Linked DNA regions of Homo sapiens. The protein of the gene in region 1 purifies or fractionates together with the protein of each later gene. This does not show direct contact. Each region holds a gene or a part of one and is shown in the gene's direction. Other genes may lie near its edges. The genes, in order: RABGAP1L, ACOT7, GOLGA5, BMAL1, VPS50, DZIP3 and PHLDB3.

Region 1 (3,500 bases):
GTGAAGGCAATATAGAAGCTTTTTTCTTTTTCTTTTTGGTGTTAATAAGTGATAATGTGTCAGGAAAGAGAAGCTATATGTCTTAGGATGTTGAATTCTGTATTAGTCAACTTTAGTTACTCAGAAAAAATATTTGCAGGTACAATATTCGGTCTTGAGGAGATAAGTTTTTTTTTGAAGCATTTAGATTTAATTAATATAGCAGTGTCAGTGAATATGGTTTTGTGTCTGTGTGTGCATTTGTAGGTATTTCTAGTATCATTTAATTATTTCCTCTATTAAAAAGAAAACAGTATTTCTAAGAGAAATGAGAGTGAGTGTGTCAGGTAAACAGTGATAAATCTGGTTGAGATATGGACTGGTTTGTGTAAATTTTTAGGTAACAATATGGCTCTATTAGTCTGGAAACTTAGGATGAAGAGAGAGTACATTTCCATTAAGTGGCTCAGTCCAAGAAGGTAGCCTCCCTAACTTTGAGATAATTATCTAGCCAGCAGGATTCTTCTTCACATAAACCATTTTTAAAGCTTTATTAGTTCATGTTTTTAATTAGTTCATGTTTTTAATCAGTAGGTTTTTTTTTTTAATCCCTTTTGTTTTTCCAGGTGGTTGTGGGAAGAGAAGTTTGCAGAACTGAAATGGAGGTCAGAGCTTCATTACAGAAGGTTAGTGGATCATCTGATTCTGTGGCTACAATGAACAGTGAAGAATTTGTTTTGGTTCCTCAGTATGCAGATGATAATTCTACAAAACATGAAGAAAAACCTCAACTGAAGGTATTTTTTTCTTTTCTACATATGGTATAATTTTTAATTAAAAACTATTTGAAACTTAGGAGATGTGTAAAATGCAAAGGTTTTTCTCAAGTGCTGACTTTCAAAATAAAATCAATGTTTGATTTATCCAGACCCTAATTATTTGGTTTGTGTATTTTAAAAAGTTCTTGCTTTTGGTTGTTTACCTTTTGATTTGGAATTTTAGGGGGAAGAATAAAAGAAGAAAAAGAAGAGAAAGGATTTTTTGGTGAATTAGACATAATGGTTAAATTTTACATTACTTTATCTGGATGTTTTTGTTTCTCTTACTGCTGGGTTTTAGAAGTTAATTAAATGTTTTGCTTTCACTTGAGAGACTTTTTTCTTTATGATTTTTATGTTTTAAATCAGCTGGTAACGTTCCGTTGTGTGATTTAACAGTCGACTTGTCTAAATGTTTTTAAAGCATATCTTATATTTTTAGCATTTGAGTTTTTATTTAGATATGGTCCCTTTTTCACTTCTGTGTTGCACTTTCTAAGTCAAAGAAAAGGAAGCAAGTAAACTCAGTTATATAGGCTTGAAAATGGTATAACTGTCTTCTAGAAACAGGAATAGGAAAAGTAGTTAAAAGTGCTATATATTACTTATGACTTTTATTTAGTATTAACTATGGCATCAAAAGTGTATTAATATATCAGTCTAATAAAATATATTCTGAAAATGAGATTACTAAATGTTTATGTTGAGAATATATTGTTTTATAATTTTATTTAAATAATCAGTGGCTTTATTTTTAGATACCTGTATTTTAGCATTATTGTGTTTAAGACATCACTTATTTGCTTAGGCTTTGTGTTTCACCTGCCTTTGAGAAAACTATGAGTCAACTTAAGTGTAAGGAAATTAGCAATATTCATCTTGGGAGCTAGCCAACAATTTGTAAAGAAATCAGAAATATGGTTATGCTGTGCTAACAAGAAATATAACCTTTTAAATGATATTCATAATAGACCCGATTTAAATTTACCTATTTTTTCCTTTAGACATGTAAATTTAAGGTTATCTGATTTTTAGGGTGTGTTCCTAAAAAAGAAAAAGAAAAAGAAGGGCCAGGCGTGGTGGCTCATAGCCTGTACTCCCAGCACTTTGGGAGGCCAAGGTGGGCAGATTGCTTGAGGTAAGGAGCTCAAGACCAGCCTGGCCAATGTGGGGAAATCCCGTCTCTACAAAAAATACAAAAATTAGCTGGGTGTGGTCGTGCACGCCTGTAGTCCCATCTACTTGAGAGGCTGAGGCATGAGAATCGCTTGAACCCAGGAGGCGAAGTTTGCAATAAGCTGAGATTGCACCGCTGCATTCCAGCCTGGGTGACAGAGTGAGACTCTGTCTTTAAAAAGAAAGGGGAAAAAAAGATAAATACATCTCTGTAAATAGGATCTTATATAAAATGTAGTTGGAAACTGTCTTAAGTGTTTTATAAAGAATCCTTTTGTGAAACTAATAATCTTCCTCTAATTTAGTTTTATAACCAGGATTTTAATGTATTATATATGTGAAACAACTTCTTAGTATTTTAGTAACTATATTTAAATATTTAGATTGTTTTAATTTCTTCTAGAAATGAAATACTTTCATAAAATTTAGCTTCAGAACTATGGTAGAATTGAAACAGAATTGTCTTGCTGTGTCTGTAGATAGTTTCTAATGGTGATGAACAATTGGAAAAAGCCATGGAAGAGATTTTGAGAGATTCCGAGAAAAGGCCAAGCAGTCTTCTTGTTGATTGTCAAAGTTCCAGTGAGATTTCAGACCATTCGTTTGGAGATATTCCAGCCAGCCAAACAAATAAGCCATCTCTTCAGTTAATTTTGGATCCGTCTAACACAGGTACTGTATTGAATTCTTAGAAACTATTAAAGAAATGGGATAAAGTAATAGTGAAAATTTTAAGATGAAAATCAGAAAAAATTGTTAGCTCTTCTCAAGCTTTCAGTTCTTGTTGAGAGTTTCCACTTCGGTGTTATGTTTCTGCCTATATCTCTGCCTATAAAAATCAGGTCTTAATGTTCTTTGGGAACAAAGACTATGTCTGGGTCCTCATTTTACCCCTAGTACTTCATGCATGGTAGGTCCTCAACAGATACTTACTGAACAAATGAGTAAATACTTGGGTGTCACAGAATAGTGTAATGGAGATAGTCTTTCATGTGATGTGCCTTTTTGCTCAGTTTCACTACACTTATTTAAAGTTATATTTAGTAAAAACTCTAAGTAAAACATATCAATTCCAACAGTGTATTAAATAATAAATACATCTATGAATAATTAGGATTTGTACTTTGAATACTAGCTTATAAGTCAAGATGCTTTTGGGTGCAAAAATAAATAAAACCAAAACCAGCTCCAACTTCAGCTGGCTTAAACACCACAGGTATAATTTGATCTAGGCTCTGATGGTGTTTTTTTGGTAACTACTCAGCTCTGATCTTGTCTATGTTACCTTTCTCCTTAGCTGGTTACAAAGTAGCTACCAGCAGAAACTGGTAGGTAAGGGAAGGTGACCTGTTTGTGCCTGGTGGCAAAGAGAAAGTCTTCATTCTTTTACTGATTTTTAAAATTTCTTTGGTGACACGATCTCATTCTGTCATCCAGGCTGAAGTGCAGTGATGCTGTTCAGCCTTCTGAGTAGCTGGGTGTGTACCACCATGCCTAGCTAATTTTTTTTTTTTTTTTGTAGTGATG
Region 2 (3,500 bases), about 170 Mb from region 1:
GACTGTGCTGGGGGTGGAGCCTTGGCCCCTTCCTGGAGAGGAGGGATGGCCTGCCGCGCTCTCCTGCTTCCTAGGACCTTCCTGCTTGTGAGGGCCCAGTCAGCAGTGCCCTTTGTCATTGCAGGAGTTGGTGGCTTCAAAAATGCCAGGAAGGGATCTGCTTTGCAGATTTTCTGCCATGAAAGCCCCCTTTGTGGTCCATCAGAGGCCATAGCCTCAGAGGAAGCCCTGAAGAGCAGGTTTCTTTTTTTTTTTTTTTTTTTTTTTGAGATGGTGTCTCACTCTGTTGCCCAGTCTGGAGTGCAGTGGTGTGATCTTGGCTCATCGCAACCTCTGCCTCCCAGGTTCGAGCTATTCTCCTGCCTCCCAGGTTCAAGCTATTCTCCTGCTTCAGCCTCCTGAGTAGCTGGGATTACAGGCATGAGCCACCATACCTGGCTAATTTTTGTATTTTTAGTAAAGACAGGGTTTCGCCATGATGGCCAGGGTGGTCTGAAACTCCTGACCTCAGGTGATCCAGCTGCCTCGGCCTCCCAAAGTGCTGGGATTACAGGCATGAGCCACCGAGCCCAGCCGAGCAGTTTGGGATGATGGGGAGAGAGGCAGGGAGACAGAAAGGCGTTCTCAGGCTTTCAGCATGGCTGGGACCCGCTGTCCCCACAGCAGAGAGTGATGCAGGCCAAAGGTCAGGGGTACTGAGCTTGAGGAACTCCCTAGATCCTGAACTTCCCTTTCCTGGCCGCTTCTGCTGGCCCATAATAGATATGGAACCGATAGTGGATGAGCAAATGAATGAATGAATAAGTGAATGAGCAGAGGCGACCAGGAAGAACTGGGCATCAGTGCTGAGACATGCTGGCTGATGGGGTTTTGATGAGGACGACACAATCTGACATATTCGTGAGGATCCCTCGCTCTTTAGGGGCTGAGAGGGGGAGAGGCTCCTGTGCAGAGCCAAGGCAGGCGTGAGCATGAGAGAGCAGCCCCCACCAGCTCACCCAGAAGGTGCTGGGAGCTTCTCGGCCTCCCAGCTGTGTCCTGGCCACCACAGCCCTCGGCCTTCTCCTCCTCCTCCGAAGGATGGGCTCAGAGAGGGACAGAGATGCCCACCCCTCCTCCCTGGGGACATCAGGGCTGGCATTGCGCTGTCGTGCGCGTGAGGCTTGGAGAAGGCAGGATACGCTTGCCAGCACATGAAGGCTTTTCCCAGTGGGGCTGGGCGGTGCCCCAGGTTCTTCTTCCCAGCTTCAGCCTTTTCCCTGTAGCAGGGGCTGGGCAGGGAGGCCTTGGAGCCCCAAGGCTGTAGCTTTTCTCCATATCTTGGTCAGGCCCCGGAGCCCGCTGTTGTCTCACTCTGTGACTGCGAGTCTCATCTCCCCCTCTGTCTCGCTCATCTCCTCGTCTGTGCTTCTGCTTCTCTGCCATCTCTCTCTGCAGTCTCTATTGTTCTCTTGAGGCCCTTCTCTGTCTCTGCCCATGTGTCCCCTGGAAATTGAACTCGAAGGCCCCAACAGCAAGAACAGTGCCTGGCACACTGTGGGCACACGGGGAGCACTGGCTGAATGGGTGGTGACCTCTGAAAGATAGGGGTATTGCAGGTGGGGGCAGAGGATGCGCGCGGGGACCCTGGCCCGGAGCAGGCTGAGTCATAAGCTGTGTGCGTGACATCTGTGTGCTGTCTCCACCCCAGGAGACAGGGGTCCCCTGTTCTGTGTGTCCCCTTTACCTGGGCTGTGCTGCCTGTCACGAGGCCGCTGAGCGAGCACAGGCCCAGGCAGACGACCCGCAAACCTTGCCTTTGAGGCAGCTCATTTATCTCCAGCAACTGTCAAAATATTAAGCTAACTGGGATGTGATTGCTGTGAATTGCTCCAGAAAAATAGCTGGGAGCTCTTAAGATTTTAAGAGATTTTTTTTTTTTTTTTTTTTTTTTTGAGACCGAGTCTTGCTCTGTCGTGCAGGCTAGAGTGCAGTGGCGCAATCTCGGCTCACTACAACCTCCGCCTCTCAGGTTCAAGTGATTCTCCTGCCTCAGCCTCCCGAGTAGCTGGGATTACAGGCACGTGTCACCATGCCTGGCTAATTTTTTTGTATTTTTAGTAGAGACCTGTTAGCCAGCATGGTCTCGATTCTGAGCTCGTGATCCGCCTGCCTCGGCCTGCCAGAGTGCTGGGATTACAGGCGTAAGCCACCGCAGCTGGCCGAGAGATAATTTTCTAATACTGCCGTTGTCTTTTGATGCTTTCATTAAATGATGGAGAAAATACAATTAGCATGTTTGCCTCATTTGCTCCATGGTGTTCATTTAGGTCCAGAGGGCCACTCGAGTTGTCATGGAAACCGGCTTGTCAGGCTGGCTCTAGCTGAATCCAACAGGAAATCTTTATTCCCAAAAGCAGGTTGTCAGATTCACTCTCAGTCAAAGTGCGGTGGAAATATTTTCCCATATTATTTGCCTGTGGTTCCCAAGCACTGGGAGCCCCACGTTCCCAAGGTGTGTTCTGTGCGGGGAGGAGGGGCAGGCACAGGCCTTTTCTTAATGGGCCCCCTGGGGCTTGATTTGGAGCCTGGGGCTGTGTTTATTGAGGAGGAAAAGCGCTTTGCCTTGGGGAGGCAGGTTCAGGTAACTGGTGGGAAGTGAGCTCCTCTGGGGGTTTTGGGCAGGGCCCTGGGGCTGCTCCTGTCTCCCTTTCCTCCATTACTTCCTGCAGTTTGCTCTTCTGCTTTATAGTGAGGATCTTCCACATTGAAGAAGCCACTTTTATTTATTTTTTTAAGACAGGGCCTCGCTCTGTCGCCCAGGCTGGAGTGCAGTGGTGCAATCTAGGCTCACTGTAATCTCTGCCTTCCGGGCTCAAGCGATCCTCCTATCTCAGCCTTTGGGACCACATGTGTGCACCGCCATGCCCAGCTAATTTTTTTTTTTTTTTTTTTTTTTTTGAGGCAGAGTTTTGCTCTCGTTGCCCAGCCTAGAGTGCAATGGCGCCATCTCGGCTCACCGCAACCTCTGCCTCCTGGGTTCAAGCTGTTCTCCTGCCTCAGCCTCCCGAGTAGCTGGGATTACAGGCACCACCACGCCCGGCTAATTTTTGTATTTTTAGTAGAGACGGGGTTTCTCCATGTTGGTCAGGCTGGCCTCAAACTCCTGACCTCAGGTGATCCGCCTGCCTCGGCCTCCCAAAGTGCTGGGATTACAGGTGTGAGCCACCGTGCCCAGCCAACCCAGCTAATTTTTTGTATTTTTGGTAGAGACGGGGTTTCGCCATGTTACCCAGGCTGGTCTGGAACTCCTGAGCTCAAGTGATCCACCCACCTCAGCCTCCCAGAGTGCTGGGATTACAGGTGTGAGCCACCGTGCCTGACAAAGCCACTTTTTAAAGGCATCCTTGCAGATACTTCTCTGAAATGACTGGGACATGGGAGTATGGCACCAAGTTGCTGTGTGACCCTGGGTAAACCCCTAGACGTCTCTGGGCCTCAGACTCCTTCTGTACAAGTGA
Region 3 (3,500 bases), on another chromosome or scaffold:
GGGAAAGGCCTTGGATGGCTATATTTTTAACAAACTTCCTGGTTGATTTTAATGCATTGCCATGTTTGGGAGTTACAACTTTACATTTCCTATACTTTAGCTCCTAACAAATTAAGAATTTTTTCCCATCCCTACTATGTTGTTTGGCTGAGCTAATAAATCCCATAAGATATCCGAATGGATGGTTGTAAAATATGTTTCAAAGCTAAATGATATCATTAATTATGATATAAAAATTTGTCACAGAGCGAGTTTGCTGCACGCCTTAATAAAGTGGAAATGGAACGTCAGAATTTAGCAGAAGCAATTACACTGGCCGAAAGAAAATACTCAGATGAGAAGAAGAGGGTTGATGAACTGCAGCAGCAAGTCAAGCTGTATAAGTTGAACTTGGAGTCCTCTAAGCAGGAATTAATTGACTACAAGCAAAAAGCTACTAGAATACTGCAAGTAAGCATGAAATGTACACTTTTGGATGTTAAGATGTGCAAGTTAACTGAAAGGCAATTTGAGACTGTGTAGATACTGTGTGAGGTGCTTTGTTCATGTTCGTCTGATTGGCTAGCTTTAGGTGCCTTACTCTACTTTAGAAATTTTATTAAAGGATGCAGTGTTTCTTGTTCCTACCACTTCTTTTAAAAAAAAAATTCATTCTGCCACTGCCTAGTTCAGGTCTTCAACCTGTCACCTTACTCACTGTGATGATATTAATGCTTGTTGTTGAGCAGCTGTTTATTCTTCCTTGTTGATCTCCTATTGAATTTTTGCAGCAACTGCTTTAGGACTCATCCAGTTCTCAGAATTGTCTCACCCAGCTTTTTTTCCCCTCCTTCAGATCTAAGGTGATCTTACCCTCTACTTTACTAAGAAAGACTACAGTCATCTAATGTCGTTTTTGAATTCTCTTTCCTTTGTCCCTCAGAGGGAAAACATGTCCTTTCATTTTTTTCTAGGATCATTTTCCTGCCTGTGCATTGATTCCATCTCCCATCTCATGTGTAAGCCCTTTCTCCATAGATCTATGCCCTTCCTTCCTGTGTGTGCCTCTCTGCTGCTGCTGCCTTCTGGCTCAGCTTACTCAAGAGCACATGGTTATTTAGTGGAAAAATGAAGACTAGATCTCGGACTCCTGCCTAAGAGAAAAACAGTCTCTTTTAGCTTTGTGACCACTTTGCACTATTTCCCTATCTTCCTTTCTTTCAGTGTCATGCTTACCAGAATTGTGTACGTGCTGTCTTCATTTCTGTAGAACTTGTTAACTCTTATCTCCTTCTTTTCCTACTACATGTCTGAAATTTCTTCTCAAAAATATTTGATGACCTAAATAAATATTCTCTGTCCTTTTCTTAGTCTCCATACCTTGTATTTTGGTAGAACATTTGGCTCTGTTAACCCTCCCACTTCCTTGGAACTCCTGCCTTCTATGCTATTCACATCTCCTTGGCTCTCTTTTTGTCCTCTTCTACTGCTGTTTCTGTCTCTCTTGGGCGCTCTTCCCAATCTCCAAAGAGTCAGAGTCCTCCTAAGCTCTGTCCTGAACCCTCTTTCATTGTCCTTTCTTACCTTGCACTGCTGTATGCTGCCTCTGCTTCTAATAGCCGCCTGCATATGACTTCAAGCATGTTTCCAAGCCTGACCTCCTGACCTCAGTGCCCAGCTGCCTACTGTGCAGGCATGGAGTGTTCAGCTCCCAGACCAACTTCTCCCTCATTCTTCTGTTCTGGTCAACGTTACTGCCATGTGGCAGTAAAGCTTGAAACCTCAGGGTCATTTTTGACTTTACCTTTTTTCTTTAGTCTCAAACTTCTAATGGCTATGAATACCTTTTTTTAATGCTACTTCCATGAAGTATCATATTGATCTCCTCCTCAAACTCTTCTTTCTAAGTACTTTTTTGTATCACCCTAATTTGTTAATTCATTGAAAAGTTACTTATTGAGCACCTAACTACTCACTAGGCACAGAGGATACAAAGCTCAAAAGATGTGTCCTCTTCCTTTAAGAAAACATTCATCTTAGTGGAAAGAAACAGATAATTGACGTAATAAGGTTATTAATGCAGTACAATGGGAGCTTGAGAGAAGAATCCCTTAAAACTTGCCTGAGGCTGTCAAAGATCACTGGACTGAGGAGATGTGGTATAAAGAGAAACTTGAAAGATGAATAGGAAGACTCATGATAGGGAAGAGATTTCCGAGAGAACAACCTGTGCCAGAGCAAGGGGGCCAGAGAGAACATGGCATATTTAAGGGACTGCAGCTAGTTCCATACTGCTGGAACATAACGTCTTCAGAGATGGGAGGCAAAAGACTCATAAAGTTCAACGGCAGGCAGAAGCCATGGTCAGGTTTGAGTGTGAGAACTGTGGCAGCCTGATGAAAAGGTTAGGGGAGATTTGGGCCTCTGTCTTGTTCATCGTTGTATCCCCAGCACAGTGCCTGGTATTCGGTACATTGTTGAAAACATGGAAGTGATAAGGGGTGGCATCAATGGCATGTAGATGGTGAAGAGGTGATCATAAGAAATAATGAGGACCTGATCAAAGTTTTTGGCAGTGAGGATGGCAGGCAGGGGACAGCTAAGAGATATGTGGGAGATAGAATATATGACATGTGGAGATTTAACTGGAAGGATGGGGGAAAAAGGCAAATGGAATCCAGGATGACTCCAGGTTTTTGGTTTAAGTGTATGAATGATGTTTCCTTGTGTTAATAAAAGGGGAAACAGGAAAGAGAACAGGTTAGGGTTAAAGGAGAGTATGACGAATTATGGTAAGTATGCAAAATTGATGCAACATTGAGGTGACAATGTTAGAAAGGTAATTAGAAGTAAGTTGGGAGAGTAGGTAAGTTTAGGCAAGAGCGATGTGTAACCTAACGGGGAGAAAGGCTGAGGTCTAAAAACACAGTCTTAAACATCAGCATTTACAAATTGGGCAAAAGGATAGCCTGCAAAAGAAAAATACTGAGAAGGTGAGTGGTCAGAGATTGGAGAGAACCAGGAGGAGACTGATGCCATCCAATGAAGCCAAGCAGAGGGAGAGTTTCAAGTGGTGCATGATCACCAACCACAGCACGCGGCTCTGATGTGACAAGTCCCGAGCTAAATTCCTGGACTTGGCAACTAGGAGGTCCCTGGGGACCTCTCAACAGAGAGTTCCGGGGTGCGCTGGGAGCTGAAGACATGGAGGCAGGGTACTTGACCATGGACATGAGGACAGTAGCTAGATGGGGGAATGAGGTTGGGAGGTTTCTGGTTTTTTATTAAAAAAAATCTTAAAATGTTATAAATGATCATGTTTATTATAGAAAATTTGAAGAATACAAAAGAAGTTTGAAGAAGGAAATGGAAATAACCCATAATCCTACCACCCAGAAAAGGAAAAATTATTTTTGATGGAGGAGAATGACTTTAAAATATTTTAATTTAACGTGAAAGCTGCTGGTCCTTGTTGTTCCTAGTCTAGAATTAGGACTTTATAAACTGGTCTTTGCATGTCA
Region 4 (3,500 bases), on another chromosome or scaffold:
AAGAAGGGGTAAGAAGAATCTAAGCGGGGAGTTTTGCTTTTCTGAATGCAAATAGTCCGGCCCTGGATGGAGGGATAACATTTGAGAGTAGTAGTTCTCAGCCCTATGTACATTAGAATCACATTAACGTGGAAGTGGGATGGGTTTAAAAATACCCCAGTGATCAGCCCCATGCCAGACCATCAGCATAAAAACAAAAACAAAAAACACTGCTCCGAATGTTGAGAACCACTGTTTTAGAGAGCTCCCTGTACGTGGAGGTTTTCAAGTTGAAGGCAGATGATGGCTGAGATGTTGGAGAGGGGATTCTTGAAGAGTCCTTCCAAATCTCAGATTCTCTGACTCTCCATAGAGTTGTTATTATTAGAGCAATGAAATATGATTCTCTGGACCATGATACCTTCAAAAGAACACGTGCAAGCTGAATTCTGCTTTGAAATATAACTTACTTTAATTGGACTTTCTTCCTATAATAATTAGATGATATGCAGAAACACACACACACACACACACACACACACACACACACACAATCTTACAGTTCTTCAGAGACGTTTGTTTTCAGCATCCTGCACTCAGGATATCACTGAAACTGTTAGTGTTCCTGTGCTTTGGATGCTTAGAAAGCACATCCTCTATTTGTTATCAGGGTGATTACAAATTATGTTTCCTACAGTATGAGAAATTGATTATCCATTTCTCCTGATTAGGCAGCAGATGGATTTTTGTTTGTCGTAGGATGTGACCGAGGGAAGATACTCTTTGTCTCAGAGTCTGTCTTCAAGATCCTCAACTACAGCCAGGTATTGTTCATGCTCCTGTTGATGGTGGGCAGCCTCACAGCAGTCAGAAGTGTCACTCAATTTTGTCAGAATAATTATAGTATACAAGTCACATGTGAACTTCTTCCAGAAAATTCTTAACTTCTTAACAGATAAATTAATTTAGACTTAGAACAATCTTGTAATATGTTCCGTATTCCCCCCATTGAAAGATCTGACTCTGATCTGATCGATAGCATTATGGCTTTCTTCTATTGCTGCAAAATAAATATCCCACAATATGTGGCAAGGACAGAGGGTAAGAGGCTATCTGACAAGGGAGAAAGGTAGGCAGGTTAACACAATACCAGAGAATACGTCACTTGGAAATCCACTCCATACTGTGTTTGCAGTGCTGTGTCACTTCTTAGCTCTATTGAACCTCAGTTTACTCTAAAAATTAATGATAACTTATAGGATCAAATAAGAGTAACATTTATAAACGCTTCTAGAACAGAACTTTTCACCTATTATGTCCCCCAGAGTTTTTATTCATTTATTCATTCACTCACACACTGGTATTTGCATGGAAGCTTGGTAGGCAGAAGACTTGAAGAATCAAAATGACATTTATGTAAATTAGAATTAATGTAAATTTAATTTTTCCAAAGATTTCTGCTCTTTTTAGTCTCAGAGCAAAGTTATGGAGGAAGTTGCTGTTATCTCTGTTAATAGACAAGGTGACTGAAGCATATGATATGCGTGACTTGCTTGAGAACAGAGAGGCTGAACAGCAGAGCTGGAATCAGAGCCCACCCCTATCTTCTGCCTTCTGAGGTCTTACAGGGGAATTCCAAGATTGTTGCCTTAGAAGAGCATAAACTGTTTATATAATTGAGGGTTTTCCCGTCATGTTATCAAAACCAACCTCCAGATGCCTCCTTCCTGGTGTCAGGCAAAGTGGTTGGACATATGTACAGGTTCACATAGGAAAAGTTTGAGGTCTCATGCACAAAAACACAAAGGCAACATGCAGACTGTGCATGCTTACTTGTTGCATAATTGATTTTCTGCATGCAATTGACTTGTCATGTTTAACATTTCATCTCCCCAGAATGATCTGATTGGTCAGAGTTTGTTTGACTACCTGCATCCTAAAGATATTGCCAAAGTCAAGGAGCAGCTCTCCTCCTCTGACACCGCACCCCGGGAGCGGCTCATAGATGCAAAAAGTGAGTACCAGAGAGGCCTCGCATTTCCTCAGCAGCCCACTCACAGGCAGCCAACCCTGAGTGAGCAGAGGGCGGGTGTGTGTGATGGGCTCAGCCTTTCCAGTCCTACTTCTCTGTCCTCTTTCTGGGGCACCAGAGCTATCTTTGGCTAAATGGAATTATTTATGTTCTTTGGTCTTTTACATAAAAAGAAGAAAAAAATCTCAATGTCCAAATTTATTGAAAAGAAGAGCTATTTAGACTGGATTCTTTCTGATTTTTAGACTTTTCTTTTTTCTTTCAGAATCTAGAAAATCCCAGTTGTATGCTCCTGAGTTTAAAGGGCTAAGTTTGATTTGTTCTCCCAGAACAAATGGGCTCTATTTACCTGAATTGCACACAGGCAGCCTCATAAAAGTAAGAAAACGTCAACTATAAATATGGTGTTTCTTCAACCAAAGTGTTCCTCCTTAGGTTGGCTCCCCCACCTGGCTTTCTTCTTTTGCAGTAGTGGAACCACCATCCACATCGCTCCCTCTGCCCCCAGCTTCCTGCTACTGCACACACTTCTGTGCAAGGCCCCAGTAGCTGTCATCTACTTTAGTCCTGTGGGAGGCTGTACACTCCTACAGTTAAGAATGAGAGAATGAGGACTCTGGCTGGGCGCAGTGGCTCACATCTGTAATCCCAGCACTTCGGGAGGCTGAGGCAGGTGGATCTCTTGAGGTCAGGGGTTTGCAACCAACCTGGCCAACATGGCAAAACCCCGTCTCTACTAATAATACAAAAATTAGACAGGTGTGGTGGTGCGTGCCTGTAATCCAAGCTACTTGGGAGGCTGAGGCAGGAGAGTTTCTTGAATCCAGGAGGTGGGGGTTGCAGTAAGCTGAGATTGTACCACTGACTGCACTCCAGCCTGGGTAACAGAGCAAGACTCTGTCTCAGAAAAAAAAAAAAAAAAAAAAAGAATGAGAACACAAGGGAGATTACTGGGCTCATTCCGGCTCCACCATTCACTAGCTGTGTGACCTTGAGCAAGTTACTTAACCTCTCTCTGTCTCAGTTTTCTCATTTATGGAAGAGTACCTATTTCTTTGGGTTGTTGTGAGGATTGAAAGTGTTAATGTATATAAAGCAGGCAGAACAGTTCCTAGCACATAGTAAGAACAGTATCAGTGTGGCCTAATGTCTTGCTCCCAAGCTGTCCACGTTAATCCCTGGAAAAAAATACCACCAGATAATCTCCTTCAAGTCATCTCTTTCATTACAGCACACCGCTTGTTCCTAAAAGTAAAATGCAGACTTTGGTATCTGTTGTTCTTTATAGTCTAGCCTTGGCTTTTTTAAGTGACCTTAGGAGAAAAATATGAATGGCATTTGGGCCTTGCCTTTGAGGCTCTTAGCATATAGTCAGAGAAATGAGACAGACAGCACCCTGCATAGTAATAGGTACAGCCATAGAAATAGTGCCAGGCATAGAGAACGGATGATTAATTCTCATGTGGGCGCAAGGACAGGCATCACTGAG
Region 5 (3,500 bases), on another chromosome or scaffold:
TCACTGCAGCCTCTCCCTCCTGGGCTCAAGCAATTCTTGTGCCTCAGCCTCCTGAGCAGCTGAAACTACAGGTGTGTGCCACCATGCCCACTAATTTTTTGTATTTTTAGTAGAGATGGGGTTTCACCATGTTGGCCAAGCTGTTCTTGATCTCCTGGCCTCAAGTTGATCCGCCCACCTAAGCCTCCCAAAGTACTGGGATTACAGGCGTGAGCCACCATGCCTGGTTATACTCCTGATTTCTGGTGGTAAAATCAGCCCTCGTAACCCTTATATCATCATTAATAATAATCACCATCATATCACTGTAAACTCTATAAATCTTTCATGTGTTGAAGTTATGGATCTATTAATAGTAATTTTCCCACTTACTCAGAGACCATGCTTACTCTGCCCATAACATCTAGGATACAAATAAGGATCAGTAATACATCTGAAATATCCCTGAGAAGCGAACAGCTATTTCAAAGACCCTGTACAGTGCTCTAGAATTGCACATCAGTTGAATATTCACACTATCATTTGTCTGATTTTTCTTTTGTTCTCATTTGTTATACAAAATAATGTATTAGAAAGTGGGAAGATGACAGTGACAAGCTGACAACAGTCGTGGCACTCTGTATTGAAACCAGCAGTGCTATAAATTATAAAAAGGCTGTGTCAGCAATCACGAATGAAGAGTATTTTAAATAAATTTGTTTAAGTCGAAATGTGAATAATATATGTAATACTTCTGTATAAAATACTCTTTTTTAAAAAAAAAAAAAAAAGCTTGGTCATTTTAAATAAAATAAGCTTTTATTTTCTTGCAACTTTCCTTAAGGTAAGTACCTCATTCCCACAGTTGAATTTTCCATGTTCTGTATGATTGATTGAAGAAATGAAACATTGACTTAATGAGCAATAAAGTGTTGTATTGTTAGGGTTTGTATATTTGTCTTTATTACTTAGTCCACCTTAAAACACACTGTTTCAGTAGTGTAGAATATCAGAATAGGTCTATAAGCTTTTTATCATGAAAAATATATATATACTTTCTATGCTTACATGCTTACACATTTCTTTATGTTTTCAGAGTGTTCATGGGAGAATTATTTCATTTGTTTCTTTTGCATTGCATTGAATATTGAACAGTTTTATAAAACTAAGATTACTTTGAAGTATTCAAAGCTTAGTTTTTATAAAGTAACTCTTGGCAGCCAGATTAACTGGAATACCAGTTTAACTTTCTTACAGACAATTATGTTGATTGAATACAGAGATCCGTGGTCTGTAGAACAACAAAGAGACTTGAACTCATTGGATCTCTTTGCAAATGAGAAAACTGAGGCCCGCATAGGTAAAATGACAGAGCACAAACACAACCCAGTCTTTCTGACTCAAGGCTTATGTTCTCTATTTCCTATAACCCTCTCATTTCTGGGGAATCTGTCCAAATATAGGTTAGAGAAAACTTCAAATACCTGACAGTTTTTTGTTTCTAATTATCCTATAATGTATTTTTTTTTATTGTTTTGCATCTTAGATATGCCAATGTCAAGAAATGCAGTAATGAGGGTCGTGCCCTGATGCAATTGGATTTTCAACAGTTTTTAATGAAACTTGAAAAACTAACAGATATTAGACCCATTCCTGATAAAGAATTTGTAGAAACTTATATTAAAGCTTATTACCTAACTGAGAATGACATGGAACGGTGGATCAAAGAGCACAGGGTGAGAGCTGGAAAATAGTTAATTAAGTTTTTATTCCTTTTTCTTTGTGCTGTTCTTGTTGGGTGTGTTATTTAATTCAAAATCATGAGAGTGAAATATAAAGAAACATTTGCTTTTTTAATACAAACTACTTAGGTCAATTCTTTGCCTTATTCAGATTAAGGGCACCGTATCTAAGCAGTGCCCTTTGACTCATCAAATCTTTTTCAGCCCTTTGTGAACTGTTACTGTAATGATCTAGAAATACAGCCAAAGCCAAGACATTAGCTATATTTTTCCTGCAACTGTGTTATAGGAAAAGGCTGAAGTTGATAAATACTGAGACAGATTGAATACAGAAACAATGAAATGATTCATAAGCCATAATCGATTATGTAACTTAAACCTTCTCATACAAACCTTCTCGTACTCCTCAACGATGAAATGGTAACATCCTACACACTGACACGTATTAGTGATGAGTGAAGACATTAATATTTAAATGGCTAAACTTAACTTACATCTTACATTAGATTTTACCTTTAATATAGATTTGATTATTTTTCTTTTGTATGACTATATAGATAACGAAAAATACTATTGTTACGTAGGATGCCGAATTTTTGACACAGTTCAACTCAGTGAGCTTGGTATGGGAAGCTTTTCTGTATATGGCATGTGTTAAAATTATCACCAAATCCTCATTGCTTTGATAACTCTAGGATTTACATTTTCTTAACCTATGAATGTCATGGGTAAAAGCTAAGTCAAGTTTTATTTCATTTGGGTAAGAAAATAATTATTTGTATATACCTGCTCAGACTCATCCTTTCTGGCCTTAACACTGTAAAGAGATAAAATGCATTAGCCTAGAACATTCACATTGGCGTGAATCTTGTGTGAATGTCCCCACTCTTACTCAGTTTCGGATCTTTAGAAGCAAAGTAGGAATGTATGTGTTATTTTTAATGAGTTCGACCAGTAAAGCCAGATTGAGAAAAACTTCACCACGTTTAGCCCCACTGACATTTGATAACCAAAATGTTAAACCTAGATGCAGATAGACTGCTTAATGTTGCTAGAATCCATTTAGTAAAGTAAGCTGTAAACACTTCTGGGTTGGTACTGAGGAAAGGGTTTTGGGAAAGAATACAAAGTAGCCAAGGAGGAAAGGCACAGCTCTATTCGATGCAAGAATGATGCCCGTTTTTTGAATTTCCTCTTTTAATATAGTAGACTGATTTTTTTTTAACTTAGTACTTTGAAAGAGCTTTAACTGATTGATATTTGTAATTCAGTGACATTTCCCCAGCAGCAGCAGGGACTCTTTTCTGTCTTTGAAGGAAACTTCCCACAATGATGAGTCCAGCGATCACTGACGATGGATCCTCACTGAATGCTGAGTGGTTAAATGAGATTACTTACCAGGCGGGGACAGGTGCTCTCAGAGATCAGATACACAAGCTGAGCAGTTTGCCAAGTTTTTAAAATCAATTCTTTCTCCTATTTTGAAATTGTACTATATTTAGTGGTTACCTTCAATAAAGACACATTTTCTTTTCTTATTAGATAATAGTACACAGCTGTCTTTCCCTATCTGAACTCTTGCTATTCAACCTCCAGTACCAAGTCAATCTGCAGAAATTTCTGATGAATCCCTGTTTATTCTCATCCTAGCAATTCAGTATCTAAAATTCAGGAACCAGATGGATTTGGATTGCGAAAGATACTCGTAGTCTTAATTTTATTTGCAGCTCCCTGACTTTGTGATCCTTGTTACCTTATTCATTTGTTGTATCTTAGAAG
Region 6 (3,500 bases), on another chromosome or scaffold:
TTTTTTCAATGTAATGTGCAACTAACAGTGTTATAGTGGTACTGGAGATAGAATCAGTTAACAATAACAACCACCACCAAAATCCCTTTCCTCATTAAGCTTACATTGTAGCGTTGTTGTCCAATATTTTTTTGTTTTGTTTTCCGTGGTTCATTTCAAAGCCAAGCCATCTGTTTAACGGCAGCATTTACCTAGTGCTTAGTCTAGTTAATACATTTTGCTACTTTATTTTTTATTTTTCTAATTATTTGTATTGATGTTCTACTAGCATCTTTATTGTTTTTAATCAGTAGGTGTTAAATGAGTTGGGGTTTCTTGGAATAGTTATTGCCAAAAATATTATATGGTGAAGAGAGGGCCAGGGAGGACTTCCAGATTTGCTATTTTTTTGTTTGCTTGCTTGCTTTTTTTGTCTTACAATGCAAAGCTTTCTTTCCTTTTTTTTCTGCTACCACACAGCCTTTTTGCAAGGAAGTTTGTAATGTGATAGTTTTAGTATGAAATCTGGCAATACTGCTTACTTGATAATTCCAATGAAAGTGACAGTGTAGGGTTTTCATTGTTGGTGAGCTCTATTTGTTCATTATTTTTTCTCCTTCTTGAATTATTTCTAGGAGAAGATGAAAATACTCACTTAGCCATGCTCATACTAGAAATCTTGACTGACTTTGGTATTATTTTATTTCCACTATAACTTAATTTTTTTCCTTTTGCAGTTATAGAAAGTTGATATCTCTGAAAATAACTGATACTGATATAAGACCGAAGATCAGTTTAAAATTTAATACAAAAGGTATTATTTTATTTTTATATGCCTTCTGTTGAAAAGTATGTTAAAATTTTTGACTTCTCTGTCAACTTTCATGCCATTAACAACCACGTCTTTACTGTGTTTGTCATTCACTGAGCTTGGGTTTATACCAGCAAGCAGCGCTTGGTGTAGGCTGGAAATCACAGACAGGAAGATCAGCACATCTATGGATCTCACATTACCTTGACATCCTATAGAGAGGCATGCTAGGTCTGGTGCATAGCTGTGACTATACCGTGGGATTGTGTTCCAGCAGAGGTTTTCTACCAACTGTTCCTTCCCTTGCTGCATTCCTTCTTAATAGAGCAAGCATTAGAGTACCCTTACATGAAAGGAATGAACATTTTGAGTTTGAGGCCAAGTTTTGAGGCTAAGTAATCTAAACTAAGCTGCCAGCTTCTTAGGAGTGTGCTAGGAAATGTCCTGCCCAGAACCTGGAGGCCTTAATTAAGGGACCCTGGGCCCATAGAAGAATAGTTTGGTGGCAGTCCAGCCAACTTTTTATTTGGTAACCCAAAGAAAGCTCCCTGTGTCATTAGCTTTTTAACTTGCCTCCACAATGTATATCAAGTATTTCAAGCAAAAACGTTAATTTAATAAATCTCTTGAAACATAGAATCTTGAAGGATAAAATAATAAGGCTGCATTTTGTGACAAACACATATTTTGATATCCATATAACACCAAATGCCATTATATACTAAATTATTAGTACTTTCTAATTCACTTCAGCCGACTTTTCTCCTTTGAAAGCACTGTTAAAACAGGAAAATACCAAATAGTTCAGTTTCATGCCTTATTCCATGTTATTGATGAAATACCTACTTATCTTTTTTTGAGGGGGTGAGAAGATGAGGTTTATTAGATCACAGTTTCTCAAGCATTATACATATATTTGAAATATCCGGCAATTTTGTTAAAAGGCAGATTTCAGTAGGTCTAGAGTGGGGCCTGAGACTGTGCTTTCCTAACAGGCTTTCAGGTGGATGCTTGATGCTGCTGGTCTCTGGGCTACCCTTTGAGTAGCAAGGAGCTAGATCTTTTGGCATTTCTTGATATAGATCTGAGCTATCTAGTATAGCAGTCCCTAGCTGTATGTGGCTACTTAAATTTAAATTAATTAAAATTAAATTTAAAATTCAGTTCCTTAGTCACCCAAACCGCATTTCCAATGCTCAGTGAGTATTAGTGCAAATATAAAACATTTTATCACATGACGTTCCATTGGGCAGTGCTGATTAGGATAAAGTATAATTGTTTAAGTAAAGTATAGTTAGACATTGACAATTAGCATTCTTGGCAAATTTCAGAATTTTTAAAGACCTAATACTGTGATGCCATGTTGTTGCTAAAGGTCATTTACTTGAACAAAACCTTGGATGACTGAAAGACTTCTGTGGTGATTAGTCTTTGTTATTACTTTTGCTTGGGAACATGTTGTTTTTGTTTAGGTTTTTTGACAGGCAGAAAGCAGCATGCTAATTGAGCACTGGCTGTGGCAAAGCACTGTACTATCCTTCATTCTTTTGGAATAGTTTTTATCCTACAGGAGCTTAGGATACAATGTGAGAGACCAAATAGAAAATGAGCATTAATGTGGAATGTCTTGACTTCTCAAAATTTATTTTCAGATGAAATGCCTATCTTCAAGCTTGATTATAATTATTTCTATCATCTGCTTCATATAATTATTATTTCTGGTACTGACATTGTTCGACAAATATTTGATGAGGCTATGCCACCTCCTCTTTTGAAAAAAGAGCTTCTTATACACAAGAATGTGCTGGAATCCTACTACAACCATCTTTGGACCAATCATCCTTTGGGTGGATCATGGCATCTGCTTTATCCTCCTAACAAGGAGTTACCGCAATCCAAACAGTTTGACTTATGCCTCCTGTTAGCTCTTATAAAACATTTAAATGTGTTCCCTGCACCCAAAAAAGGATGGAATATGGAACCGCCATCTTCTGACATCTCTAAATCTGCAGACATCCTGAGACTGTGCAAATACAGGGATATCCTCCTTAGTGAGATTTTGATGAATGGTCTCACTGAGTCACAGTTCAATTCAATTTGGAAAAAAGTTTCAGATATTCTTCTGCGCCTTGGGATGATGCAAGAGGATATTGACAAAGTGAAGGAGAATCCCATTGAGAATATCTCCCTTGATTACCATCAGCTATCTGTCTACCTAGGCATACCAGTACCAGAAATCATACAGAGGATGTTATCCTGCTATCAACAAGGTACTAAATGATTATTTACTTCAGCCAATAAACTTCCATTGATTGAATGTCTGCTCTGTGCCAGGCACAGTGCAAAGGGCAAGAGATTCAGTGAGCTCATGGTTTTGGGAAAATGGACTCATCAGGAAGGTAATAGAAATTATAGTGCTAGAGATGTTTCCAGAATACCATGGGAAATCCTAGGCTAAAGAAGTCCAAAAAAGCTTTCTGGAGAGTATCATAGTTAAAGAACTATTAATGGTGTGCAGAAGTTAGCCAGGTGAAGCAGACTGAGAAGAATGTTTCAGAGGGAAACAAAAATAAAGGTATAGAAACATAAAAATATACTGCAGGCAACTAAAAAATGTTGGCTTCATTGAGATTAAAGTAGGGGAGAGTTCATAGAGTACATTCAAGAGGATTTTTTTGTCACATTAAGGAGTCTGCATTTTTCAGAAAGA
Region 7 (3,500 bases), on another chromosome or scaffold:
TGGAGTCTCACTTTGTTGCCCAAGCTGGAGTGCAGTATTACAATCTCGGCTCACTGCAATCTCCGCCTCCAGGGTTCAAGCGATTCTCCCGCCTCAGCCTCTGGAGTAGCTAGGATTACAGGCGCCCACCACCATGCCTGGCTAATTTTGTATTTATAGTAGAGACGGGGTTTCACCATGTTGGCCAGGCTGGTTTTGAACTCCTGACCTCAGGTGATCCACCCGCTTTGGCCTCCCAAAGTGCTGGCATTACAGGCATGAGCTACCGTGCCTGGCCTTGTTTTCCATTTTTAACAGTAGAGACACTATGTTGGCCAGGCTGGTATTGAATTCCTGGCCTCGAGCCTCCCTTCTGGCCAAAGTGCTGAGATTATAGGCCTGAACCATCATGCCTGACCTAAAATATCTTTTCACAGTTGATTTATTTGAATCTATATGCAAAGCACACGCTATGCATTTGGTTTAATGTCTCTTAAATCTTTTAATCTCTAACAGTTCTGCCTCCCCATTAAAGAAAATGCTATTTATTTGTGGAAATAATCAAATAATTTATCCTGTTGACTTTTTCACATTCTTGATTTAGCTGACAACTCCCTTACATAAATTACATTTTTGCCTATACTAATAACATTCATAGAATCAATGCGTTTTGTTATAAAGAATGATAAAGCTAGGCACCATAGCTCACGCCTATAATCTCAGCACTTTGAGAGGCCGAGGTGGGAGGATCACTTGAGTCCCGGAGCTGGAGAACAGCCTGGGCAACATAGTCAGACCCTCATCTCTACAGAAATTTAAAAAATTAGCAGGTGTGGTGGTGCATGCCTTTGGTCCCAGCTACTCGGGAAAAGGCTAAGGTGGGAGGATTGCTTGAGCCCAGTGGGTGGAGGCTGCAGTGAGCTATAATCGCCCCACTGCACTCCAGCTTCAGTGACAGAGTGAGACCCTGCCTCAAAAAAAAAAAAGAATGATAGATAAAGTATTAAGAAAGTGGTCACTTTCTTCCTGATCTCACTTCTACTGCTGAGAAGCCTTCAAATCTGTGTTTATACTTTTCCACATGCACCAGTCAAGCCATATTTTGTGAATTTGTCTCATAAATAAGCACATCCTTCCCAACCTTTTTGTTTTTACCACCATTTGTCCTTCCCTTATTCATTTCAGCCCATATTTATTGAGTGCCTACTGTGTGCTAGACCCTGGGTCATAGCAGTGACCAAGATAACAATCCCCACCTTTGGGGGAAGCTGATGTTTTAAGGGGGAAGATGGACACAAAGCAACATCAATATGTAAAATAAATAGCATGTCAGAGGCTGATAAGAGCCAGGGAGCAAAATAAGGCAGGAACGGCAGTGGGGTCTTCTGCATTGTTAGGCATAAGCTTGTGCTCATTAAAAACGAAGCACAGGCCAGGCGTGGTGGCTCACGCCTGTAATCCCAGCATTTTGGGAGGCTGAGGTGGGCAGATCACCTGAGGTCAGGAGTTCGAGACCAGCCTGACCAACATGGAGAAACCCCGTCTCTACTGAAAATACAAAAATCATCTGGGCGTGGTGGCATGTGCCTATAGTCACAGCTACCCGAGAGGCTGAGGCAGGAGAATCGCTTGAACTGGGAAGCAGAGGTTGCAATGAGCCAAGATCACACCACTGCTCTCCAGCCTGGGTGACAGAGCGAGACTCTGTCTCAAAACAAACAAACAAACAAACAAACAGAATTGCTCCTGCTCTGGTGTTCTGCCTGGCTTCTAGCATCATCATTTATTAAACAGTCCCCTGCTGTGTGCTTTGTCCCCTGCCGTACACCCCTGCTATCTTTTGTGCACGTGAGCAAGTGTGTCCCTGGGCTTCACACCTAGAAGAGGAACCTCTAGGTGAGAGACCCTGAGGGCAGCCAGCTCATCCTTGAAACAGCCCCAGAGGAGAGTGCTGTGATAACCCTGGTGTTTTAGCATAGGGAACTGAGGCTCCCAGAGGGGCAGGAGTTCTGTGGAGGTGACACAGCCGGGCAGTGGTGGAGTCCCAAGCCCATCCCTGGTCTCCTCCTAGATTGGGGCCCAGCTCCCCTACATCCTAGTTTGGTGACCTTGGAGAGTCACCTCTTCTTAAAGCCTCAGTTTCTTGATCTGTCTAGCAGGAACATTAATGGGTTCTTTTGGAGAAGAAACGAGGTAATCACAGTGACCACTTGGCATAGTGCCTGACACAGAGCGGGAGCTTCCACACACAGTGGTGATCCTTGGTCTTTCTGTGTGGATTTGGGGAGATTGCAGGCCCAGCGGGTACTCTTTAAACCTGGCCTTTCCCTCCCTTCCTTTCCCTCCTCCCTAATCCTTCTCATTTCCCCACCTCACTCTCCTGTCTCCAACCAGCAGATCTCATCTCTGTTTCTCATCCCTTCTTGCTCTGGCCTTGCTTCAGTTTTCTTTCTTTTCTTTCTTTTTTTTTTTTTGAGACATGGTCTCCCTTTGTCACCCAGCCTGGAGTGCCGTGGTGTGATCTCGGCTCACTGCAACCCCCACCTCCTGGGCTCAAGCGATCCTCCCACCTCAGCCTCCTAATTAGCCGGGATCCTAGGCACACACCACCATGCCTGGCTAATGTTTGTATTTTTGTATTTTTTTTTTGAGATGGAGTTTCGCTCTTGTTGCCAAGGCTGGAGTGCAATGGTGCCATCTTGATTCACCGCAACCTCCACCTCCCGAGTTCAAGCGATTCTCCTGCCTCAGCCTCCTGAGTAGCTGGGATTACAGGCATGCGCCACCACGCCTGGCTAATTTTGTATTTTCAGCAGAGACAGGGTTTCTCCATGTTGGTCAGGCTGGTCTCAAACTCCCAACCTCAGGTGATCCCCCCACCTTGGCTTCCCAAAGTGCTGGGATTGTAGGCGTGAGCCACCACGCCCAGCCTAATTTTTGTATTTTTTGTAGAGACGGGGTTTCGCCATGTTGCCCCAGGCTGGTCTCAAACTCCTGGGTTTAAGTGATCCTCCCCTCTTGGCCTCCCAAAGTGCTGGGATTACACGTGTGAGCCACCGCACCCATCCTGCTTCAGTTTTCTAACTCCTTGACACTCAAAGTGTGGCTGGTGGAACAGCAGCATCAGGGCCCACCTGGGAGCTTGTCAGACATGCAGAACCTCTCCCCCTACTCCAGACTCCACCCTGAAATGACTGAATCAGAGTCTGCATTTTAACATTTTAACAAAATCCCCAGCGGATCTGCTTGCATGAAGAAATCTGAGATGTACTACCCTGAACCTCAGTTTGACCTCCGGAATCATACCACTGTTTGCAGGGATTATTTGGGAAGAATAGGTTGGATCAGACCAGCTCATGGTCAGGCTCTCATAAATAGTGGACACTTGTATTGCCTTAAATCCTCCTCCCCAACCTGTATGACCATCTGAGGTGACCACTCTACCTGGTGAGTCCTGGCTCTGTCAGCTCTGGCTGTGTGACTTGTGCCGAGTGACTTAACCTCTCTGAGTCTTGGTTTCC

Evidence for each region.
Region 2: the proteins of RABGAP1L (region 1) and ACOT7 purify together in Homo sapiens (affinity purification with mass spectrometry; one large-scale study listed by BioGRID and IntAct). This does not show direct contact.
Region 3: the proteins of RABGAP1L (region 1) and GOLGA5 purify together in Homo sapiens (affinity purification with mass spectrometry, with the first as the bait; one large-scale study listed by BioGRID). This does not show direct contact.
Region 4: the proteins of RABGAP1L (region 1) and BMAL1 purify together in Homo sapiens (affinity purification with mass spectrometry, with the first as the bait; one large-scale study listed by BioGRID). This does not show direct contact.
Region 5: the proteins of RABGAP1L (region 1) and VPS50 purify together in Homo sapiens (affinity purification with mass spectrometry, with the first as the bait; one large-scale study listed by BioGRID). This does not show direct contact.
Region 6: the proteins of RABGAP1L (region 1) and DZIP3 purify together in Homo sapiens (affinity purification with mass spectrometry, with the first as the bait; one large-scale study listed by BioGRID). This does not show direct contact.
Region 7: the proteins of RABGAP1L (region 1) and PHLDB3 purify together in Homo sapiens (affinity purification with mass spectrometry, with the first as the bait; one large-scale study listed by BioGRID). This does not show direct contact.

What each region holds. Positions count from the first base shown.
Region 1 is NC_000001.11:174,218,520-174,222,019, forward strand, and holds part of RABGAP1L (rab GTPase-activating protein 1-like), read left to right. Parts: intron 1-605; 5' UTR 606-638; coding exon 639-776; intron 777-2,452; coding exon 2,453-2,645; intron 2,646-3,500. UniProt on the Homo sapiens protein: GTP-hydrolysis activating protein (GAP) for small GTPase RAB22A, converting active RAB22A-GTP to the inactive form RAB22A-GDP. Plays a role in endocytosis and intracellular protein transport.
Region 2 is NC_000001.11:6,334,768-6,338,267, reverse strand, and holds part of ACOT7 (cytosolic acyl coenzyme A thioester hydrolase), read left to right. Parts: intron 1-3,500. UniProt on the Homo sapiens protein: Catalyzes the hydrolysis of acyl-CoAs into free fatty acids and coenzyme A (CoASH), regulating their respective intracellular levels.
Region 3 is NC_000014.9:92,811,305-92,814,804, forward strand, and holds part of GOLGA5 (golgin subfamily A member 5), read left to right. Parts: intron 1-246; coding exon 247-450; intron 451-3,500. UniProt on the Homo sapiens protein: Involved in maintaining Golgi structure. Stimulates the formation of Golgi stacks and ribbons. Involved in intra-Golgi retrograde transport.
Region 4 is NC_000011.10:13,364,790-13,368,289, forward strand, and holds part of BMAL1 (basic helix-loop-helix ARNT-like protein 1), read left to right. Parts: intron 1-710; coding exon 711-803; intron 804-1,875; coding exon 1,876-1,993; intron 1,994-2,276; coding exon of another isoform or gene 2,277-2,389; intron 2,390-3,500. UniProt on the Homo sapiens protein: Transcriptional activator which forms a core component of the circadian clock.
Region 5 is NC_000007.14:93,354,366-93,357,865, forward strand, and holds part of VPS50 (syndetin), read left to right. Parts: intron 1-1,525; coding exon 1,526-1,715; intron 1,716-3,500.
Region 6 is NC_000003.12:108,641,722-108,645,221, forward strand, and holds part of DZIP3 (E3 ubiquitin-protein ligase DZIP3), read left to right. Parts: intron 1-716; coding exon 717-793; intron 794-2,442; coding exon 2,443-3,060; intron 3,061-3,500. UniProt on the Homo sapiens protein: E3 Ubiquitin ligase proteins mediate ubiquitination and subsequent proteasomal degradation of target proteins.
Region 7 is NC_000019.10:43,480,747-43,484,246, reverse strand, and holds part of PHLDB3 (pleckstrin homology-like domain family B member 3), read left to right. Parts: intron 1-3,500.